Linked DNA regions of Homo sapiens. The protein of the gene in region 2 interacts with the protein of the main gene of each other region in a pairwise test. Each region holds a gene or a part of one and is shown on either strand. Other genes may lie near its edges.

What was found. The genes of interacting proteins can lie anywhere in the genome.
Region 1: the proteins of NR2E3 (region 2) and ELAVL2 interact in a two-hybrid assay, tested with the Homo sapiens proteins (one large-scale study listed by BioGRID and IntAct).

Annotation. Positions count from the first base shown.
Region 1 is NC_000009.12:23,819,611-23,823,257, reverse strand, and holds part of ELAVL2 (ELAV-like protein 2), read left to right. Parts: intron 1-125; exon of another isoform or gene 126-492; intron 493-702; exon of another isoform or gene 703-895; intron 896-1,437; exon of another isoform or gene 1,438-1,653; intron 1,654-1,948; exon of another isoform or gene 1,949-2,031; intron 2,032-2,101; exon of another isoform or gene 2,102-2,323; intron 2,324-3,647.
Region 2 is NC_000015.10:71,808,907-71,812,653, reverse strand, and holds the start of NR2E3 (photoreceptor-specific nuclear receptor), read right to left. Parts: upstream 2,101-3,747; 5' UTR 1,911-2,100; coding exon 1,793-1,910; intron 1,172-1,792; coding exon 1,045-1,171; intron 889-1,044; coding exon 785-888; intron 700-784; coding exon 478-699; intron 319-477; coding exon 143-318; intron 1-142. UniProt on the Homo sapiens protein: Orphan nuclear receptor of retinal photoreceptor cells. Transcriptional factor that is an activator of rod development and repressor of cone development.

The DNA of each region.
Region 1 (3,647 bases), on a different chromosome or scaffold from region 2:
GGGATGAGAATATTATAATTAACTATTTACTGAGAGGTCAAAGAGGCGCAGGCGCTTTGAGCAGTTTTCCCAGGAACCCACACAAAGTCAATTAAGGTCATTTAATTGCAAATCGGATTTGGGGTGACACGGAAATGCTGATATAGAATCAGTTAGCTGTATCCGGTGTCCCCAGACTGGGTCGCACAAATTAAGGGATGGCCTATCTCGCTTTTGACCTTGGTTGAGCCCCCTACTTCACTATGCTGATTAGACTTCGCCCAAGAGGGCAAATTTGCCTCTCCCACACCCGCCCTGGGTTAGACGAGTCCCCTCCCTTCCCCCCAACCCCGCTCCGCCCGTCGCATGGGGGCGGGGAGCGCTGGACGCCCTTAGCGGACCTTGCTGCATCAAACCTGCATCATGCCCTTGAAGCTGTAACCTCGGTCACGTTCTTGCGGCGACTGGGTCGCCCACTGCTCGGTTCCTTTCTCTTACCTCCTACAATTTCAGGTAGGTATGACAGGTGATTTTTTAAATGTAGTATTTTAGGAGAAGGGCTAAAATCGATGCCTTTGCAATGAAAAAAATCCCAACTACAGGTGCTCTCGTAATTAAGCGGCCGAGCAGGTGTAAAAACGTGCTCCAGCCGCGTGGCTCCGGGGTGGGTTTTGACTTCCAGCCGTGGGGCCGGGTCTGAGGACAGGCACAGGTTTTTCTGGGGAAAAGGGATTGAGCTTGGCGAAGGGGCGGGCCAAGGCAAGGCAGCGATGGGACGCCCCCTCGGTGAAGAGTTGGCCATTTCGGGTCTTGAGTTGGGGGGCGATAGAAGGATGCGGCTAGCGGCAAGCGTTTGCATAGTCGAGTGCAGGATTTCCTACTTTGCGTTTGAAGCAGAGTACAGCACCCCGCACAGGTACTCTGGGCTTATTTAAACGTCAGGTTCTCTCTAGAGAGGCAGGGAGGGGCAGCAGGGGGCTAAGCCTTTATTTTCTGTCCAGGGACAGGACCCCTTGGCTGCGAAGTAGGGGGAAAAAGAGAATTTTTAAAAGAGACACACATATGTGTGTATACTTATATATATTTATAAATACATTTATGAACACATAAAGTAACCCCCACGTTAGCTGCTCTGACTCCCCGTTAGCGCCCCGGGCCTCGGGATTTGCAAACTTGCACCTGGAATCAGCCTCCTCTGGGCGCTCAACGCTCTCCACCGAGTCCAGAGAAACCTTGTCGGGGAAGCCTGGTGAGACTCGGAAGTCCGGAGGGACGGAGCTGAGCTGCTGAAGCCCGGCATCTCCCTGCCGGCACGGACCCGAAGGGCGGTCGGGCAGGGCACGCGCCGGCGGCGGCCGCGGCGCCGCGAACTCGCCGCCGGCCCCGCCTCCTGGCGCTCTTCCAAGCAAGCCCCTCCTTCCCGCCCCGCTACAAACGGCGGGACCGCGGCGCCTGGGCGTCACTGAGGCAGTAGCCGGCCGGGTGAGGAGGGCGGTTGCCGGCGCGGCGCGGCGCGGCGCGGGTGGGGCGGGGGTTCCGCCGGCTTCCAGTCCCCTTTCCCGCCGCCGCCGCCGCCACCGCCTCTCCGCGGAGCTCGCCCCGAGCGACTCCTCCGCGGCAGTGCTGACGGCCAGCGGCACGAGCCGTAGTAGCTGCAGCTTCGAGTCACAGCAGGCAAGTGCTGGGGGCGTGGGGGCGGGGACGGCGTCCGCGCCTTGCCCCTGGTCCATTTTGGACGCCGAGGCTAAGGTCTGTGCGCGCCCCCGCTGCGTCTAGCAGGGTAGGGGTGGTGCGCCCTAGTCCGAACTCTGGGCGGGAACACTGGTGGGGGCGGCGGAGGTTGTGCCCGCGAAGTTCCTAGAGCTCAGCCCGTTGCGGCGGGAGTAGAGAGAATTGGGCGCCTCGGGAGGTGGCACCGCCCCTCCCGTGGGCACAAGCAGGTTGGGGGCGGCGGGAGCCGAGCGGGGACAGTCGCGCCTGGCAGCGTGCACGGGCGTGGACGTGCCCGGGTGCGGCCGCGTGTAGCGCAAGAAGGAAACTGTTGAGACGCAGGTGAGTGTATTGGAGGGAAAGTGGGGGAGGGGGCTTTTCTAGAAAAAGGGCAGGATTCCTGTGTTGCACTGGCAACCCCGCCTTGCGGGAGGATGTGTGCACTGGCTTCTCCCGCGGAACACGCCGGGGTGGTGTCTGGTGTGTGCCCACTTGCTACGGCGCCTTCGCGCGCGCGGTCCTTGGAGCTCTCGGGGCGTTTGGAGACTTAACACCGGCCGCGTTGTGTGCGGAGGTGGTGTAGGGCCGCGGGCGCCCAGGGCAGGAGCAATGATGATCCCCTCGTGCGCGTTAGGTGAGGCCCGTCGCAGCCGCGCGAGGTCGCAGCTCGCGGTCACATCTCGGGTTTGCGCGCGAGGCGTGCGCTGCGCGGGAAGCGCGGGCGCTCTGCCGGGCGAGGCCGGCTCTGGGATTTCAGTTCGCTTGCCGTGGTTGCGGCAGCTGCTCCTCCAGCTTGGCTGGTAGGGCCTGCCAGCGGCGGCCGGGGTGCACGGACTAGTGTGCGTGCACTGGTGAGACTGGGGGAGCCAGCGTCGGTTCACTGGCAGGTGCTCCTCCAGTGGCCGTGACAATGCTTAGCCAGCAGTCTTTCTCACGGCATTTCCTTAAAAGCCTCCTTGTTATCCTTCAGGGCCAGAGCGTAAAACCATGCCTCTAGATGCGAGCTATGAGCATGCAGTTGTAGCTGCCCAGATGGTCATTTAGAATTGTGTGCATTTTTAAAGACCATCTTTATGACAAAGATTTTCAAGTCCTATCGTCTCTACATTTTCTGAAAACATGGGAAAAGGATTTGCTACGAGTTGTCCACTCTCCTTTATTCCCTCCCTCAAAGAACGGTTCTTAGAAGTGCCAAAATGTAATACCTTCGGCAAGGACAAAAGCGCTTTTAAAACTTAATTTTCTAGTGGCCCTATTCCTAATAATTCTTCATAAAAATTTAGCTCAGCCTCAAAACTTACGGCGAATCAGTCCATTTAAAACCATTCGAATATCAATTGCTGTGTAATGTCCCCATTCCCTCAAGTAAAATCTGTTTGTTTGAAATATTGTTTTGTTGCCCTTGAAGAGTTTTCTCAAGAATCGTTTCGCCAGAGTCGCTTGAATTTCCCATTTCTTGTGGAAGCTGACCTGGAGTTTCCATTTTGGTGAGCGGGTGGAAAAGCTGTCCTGCATCTACCTTGTCTTAGTAACCTTTGGGTATATATAAATGGTGACTGTATTGCTGAGTGGACCCGAATGTTACTGCATTTGTGGTAGGGGCCTTCTTTATAGGAGGTTTGTAGGGATGCTAAGGTAACAACACTTAAGGTTGTGGGGAGGATATACTTACGGGAAGTTCGCTTGCAAACTATGGGGAGAGAAAGAAGAGGAAGAAAACATCTGGAAGATAAAGGCCAGAATGGGGTAGGAAAAATTAGAATATGAAGAAACATGTTACATTAAATTTTCTGTGATTCCTCCTTTGTAATTTTCCTTTTTGAGAGAGTATTTTTATTTTTGTGTGGTTAAAACCAGCCCCTTGTTGCCTGTTATTTGGGTAACTTTGTGCTGCCACCTTTCAGGGAGTTAGTTGTTTTTTTCTTCCTTTGAAAGACAACTTTAGGTGTTAAGCCCCT
Region 2 (3,747 bases):
GGTATGTGTGTCCCCAGCCATCACCATCCAAGCTGTGTGCATTCATACTGGCGTGGGGATGTGTGTGCCCTGTCTGGTTGACTCGAGTGGGCCGCCTGACCCCAGCCCAGCCTAGCTCCCCAGCAGGCAGGCCGGTAGGTACCTGATCCCGGAAGGGCAGGCTGGAGAACACAGGCAGGTTCTTGGCCCACTTGACGGCCATGAAGAGTAGGCGAGCCGAGGTCTCATGGATGCTGTCCAGGCCGCAGGGGGAGGAAGAGGAGTATGGAGAGGAGGGGAACTCAGGGTCATTGCTGGTGACATCAATATTCTCATCAGCTGTTGGAGGAGGAGGTTGTGATCTTAGCGCCTGCTTCTCGGGAGGTGGCAGGGAGTACTTGGAGCCCCGGGGGAGGGAGGATCAAGGCAAGGCGCTGCAGCCCTGCTGTGACCCGGGAAGCCAAGCCCTGCTGTGCCCTCAGCTGCTCTCCCACTCACCATCCTCTGGCTCCAGCTTAGCACAGGTTTCAGCTGTTATAAGGCTGGCCATGAAGTGGTGGCCCAGGGCTCTGGCTGCAGACATGGGTGTGGGGCCCCGTGGGCTGCGCCCTGCCGGGGCCGGGGGAGCCACCAGGGACTCCGGCCGGGACTCAGTGTTGGACTCCATGCTGTCCAGGTGGACCTGGGCTGTGCTTCGCGGCTGGCGCTCGTTCTGCACGGCTGGGGAGGCAGGAAGGGTCAGGACGACACGCCAGTCCCGCTGCCCATTTCTTGTCACCTCCCCCCGGGCCAGCCCCCGCCTCACCGTCCTGGTTCATCCCCGCCTGCAGGCACTTCTTCAGCCGGCAGGCCTGGCACTGGTTGCGGTGGGCCTTGTCCACGGGGCACATCCCTGCCCCCACCTGGCACCTGCAGGTGAAGAGGAGACCCCAGGGGTCAGTGTCCCTCCCATGCCCTGAGCCATGGGCTTGGACATTTTTGCCCAAGCCCCTCTTCCCCTGAGCACCCCCTCACCCCTCCAGAACCCCTCAGGGGCAGACGCCCAGCAGGGCCCACCGCACTCACCTGTAGATGAGCCTCCGCCGTACGCTCCTCTTGAAGAAGCCGCTGCAGCCGTTGCAGGCATAGATGCCATAGTGCTTCCCGCTGCTGCTGTCTCCGCACACGCGGCACTGGAGCGAGGGGCTCACGCCTGAGGGGCAGGGGGCAGGGCTGGGCCAGGGCAGGGCTGGGCCGGGGCAGGGCTGCACGCTCCCCTCCTTCCCTCGGGTCCCTTTCCCAGTCCTCAGGCCCCGCTCACCCGCATTTGAACGAACCCACGCGTGACTCTTCCATCTGGAGAAGTGTCTCCCTCACTGTGCATCCACACCCCAGCCCCCACCCCCATTCCTTGCCCTCTCTCCTCCCTCAATGGCCAATTTTCAGCAAGAGTCCGAGCCCTAGCTCCACTTTCCCAGCTCCCATCCCTTCTCTGTGGGTGGCTTCAGGCTCCATCATCCCACAGAAACATTCTTGTCAACGCCACTAGGGACCTCTGTGCTGTTAAGCCCTAAGGGCGCTTCTCTGTTCTTTCCTTCCCCATCGGCTAGGCTGTCCTGTCCTGGCTCTGCAGCCTGCCCGCCCCCAACCCCCATCCCCGCCCCACCGTGTTTCTAGGATTCTGGGTTTACCCACAGGCTACCCCACCCTTGCCCACAGCCGGCGGGGCTGGGTCTGAGTTGTTCTGGCTCCTTCCATGGTCCCTGCGAACCTCTGGCCCTTACCCTGCTCCCCAAGGGCCCAGACCCAACCCTACCTCCAGGAGAAGCCATACCTGTGGGATCCTCCCCCAGGCCCCATCTGCCTGGAGACTCCTTCCTGGAGGCAGCCCCAGCTGCAGGCGCAGCTGCAGCCACTGTGGAGCTCATCAGAGCTGTTGGTCTGGTCTCCATGGGTTACAGGGCAGCCTCTGCCTGCCTGCGGGAGGCCTGGGTTGCTGAGCCTGGCCCAGCCTTTGCCTCAGTCCATGAACCTCTGTCTCTCTGTGCCCCTGTCTCCCTTCCTGAACTCTGTCTGAACTCAGGAGCTGCCCCAAGGTCCCGAAGCCCCTCACAGCACAGGCTCTGGCTTGAGGAGATTTCTCCCGGGGCAGCCGCTGGACGCAGTTTATGATCCTCTTAATCTTTACTGTCTCCACAGGGGATCAACTGGCCACACCTGCAGCATTACCAAGGTGCCCCGGGAGCCGGTCAGTCCTGCTACCCCATGCTGGTTCCCGGGCTGCCCAAGGTCCCCCGGGGCCCTCCTGCCCTGTGTGCTCAGCTGTTCACCATTTCATGCCACATCTTGAAGAGAGGTGTGGACTCCACCTCTCCCAAGGACTTTAAATCTTTTTCTTTGTTTTGATACGGAGTCTCGCTGTGCCACCCAGGCTGGAGTGCAGTAGCATGGTCTCGGCTCACTGCAGCCTCTGCCTCCTGGGTTCAAGCGATTATCCTGCCTCAGCCTCCCAATCAGGTGGGATTACAGGCACCTGCCACCACGCTCGGCTAATTTTTTTTGTATTTGTAGTAGAGATGGGGTTTTGCCATGTTGGCCAGGCTGGTCTCGAACTCATGACCTCAAGTGATCTGCCCACCTCAGCCTCCCAAAGTGCTGGGATTACAGGTGTGAGCCACCCCACCTGGCTGGACTTTAAATCCTTTTGAGCTGCTTGGCACACATCCGAAGGCAAGTGTGTGGCCAGTGTGTGTGTCTTTGCCTGTGGGGGTCCTGCCTGAGACACTCCCCTTGGGTCCTAGGTAGATCTGGCTCTGCCCCACGAGGTTCTCACTCCAATCCCTTGGAAAGGGACTGCTTGGGGCTCACGATTTGAGGATCCAGCCCCCCCAGAAGGCTAGCAGTCCCCAGACACCTGGCACAGAGGACGTTCCCAGAACCGTCCCCCGTAGGGTCTGAGGCTGGCCTGGAGGAAAGAGGCCTGGATCCCCATCTGGAGGGTCTCCTTCAGGCCTGTGAGGGGGCAGAAGAGGAGCTGGCAGGCTCCTCTGGAGAGCCAGGCCTGCAGGACTAGAGCCAGTGAGGACACAGCCACCTTGAGCCTGGCCACGGGCTCTCAGGAGTCCTCCCCTTCCCCCCGAACTCGGCCTCACAGCTCCGCCTGCCTCTTGCCACACCAGCCCCCTGCGCTGCTCCCAGGTCCATCCTTCCCACCTCCAGCCCAGCGATGCCTCTGCTCCTGTGGGAAGGAGAGGGAAGGAGGAACTTGTCTTACATCCTTGCCTTATAGTAAGCCCCGGGCCCCCGCAAGGGAGTGTGGAGAGAGCAGAGGCAGACCCAGGTTCAAGTACCTTCTCCATCACCGGCCAGCCATGTGTCCCTGAGAAAGTGACTCAATCTGTCCAAACTTCAGTTCCTCACCTGTAAAACAGGATGAGAAGAGCACCTGTCCTATGGTGTAGTTGGGGAACTAAAGACAATGGTTCAGGAAATGTGTTTCAGAGCCTGGTACTCAGTAAGAACCTAATAAATGGTGTGTGCAGCTGATATTGTTATATTCTTGGGGTTACTGAGAAGGTCACACTCAGCAGCCTTTTCTTGCCTGCTCCTCCACCCCCAGGCCCACTTGCCAGCCCCCTCCCTGCCCGGGACAGAGCTGAAAGCCCATGTTGTCCTGGAGGGGACCACTTGTCCCCAGCAGACCAGAGCTCACCTCAGGATGAGCTGGGGTGGGGTTGGTCCAGCCTTAGACCCCAAGGGGAAGCGGGCGGAGCGTGAAGCTTCCAGAAG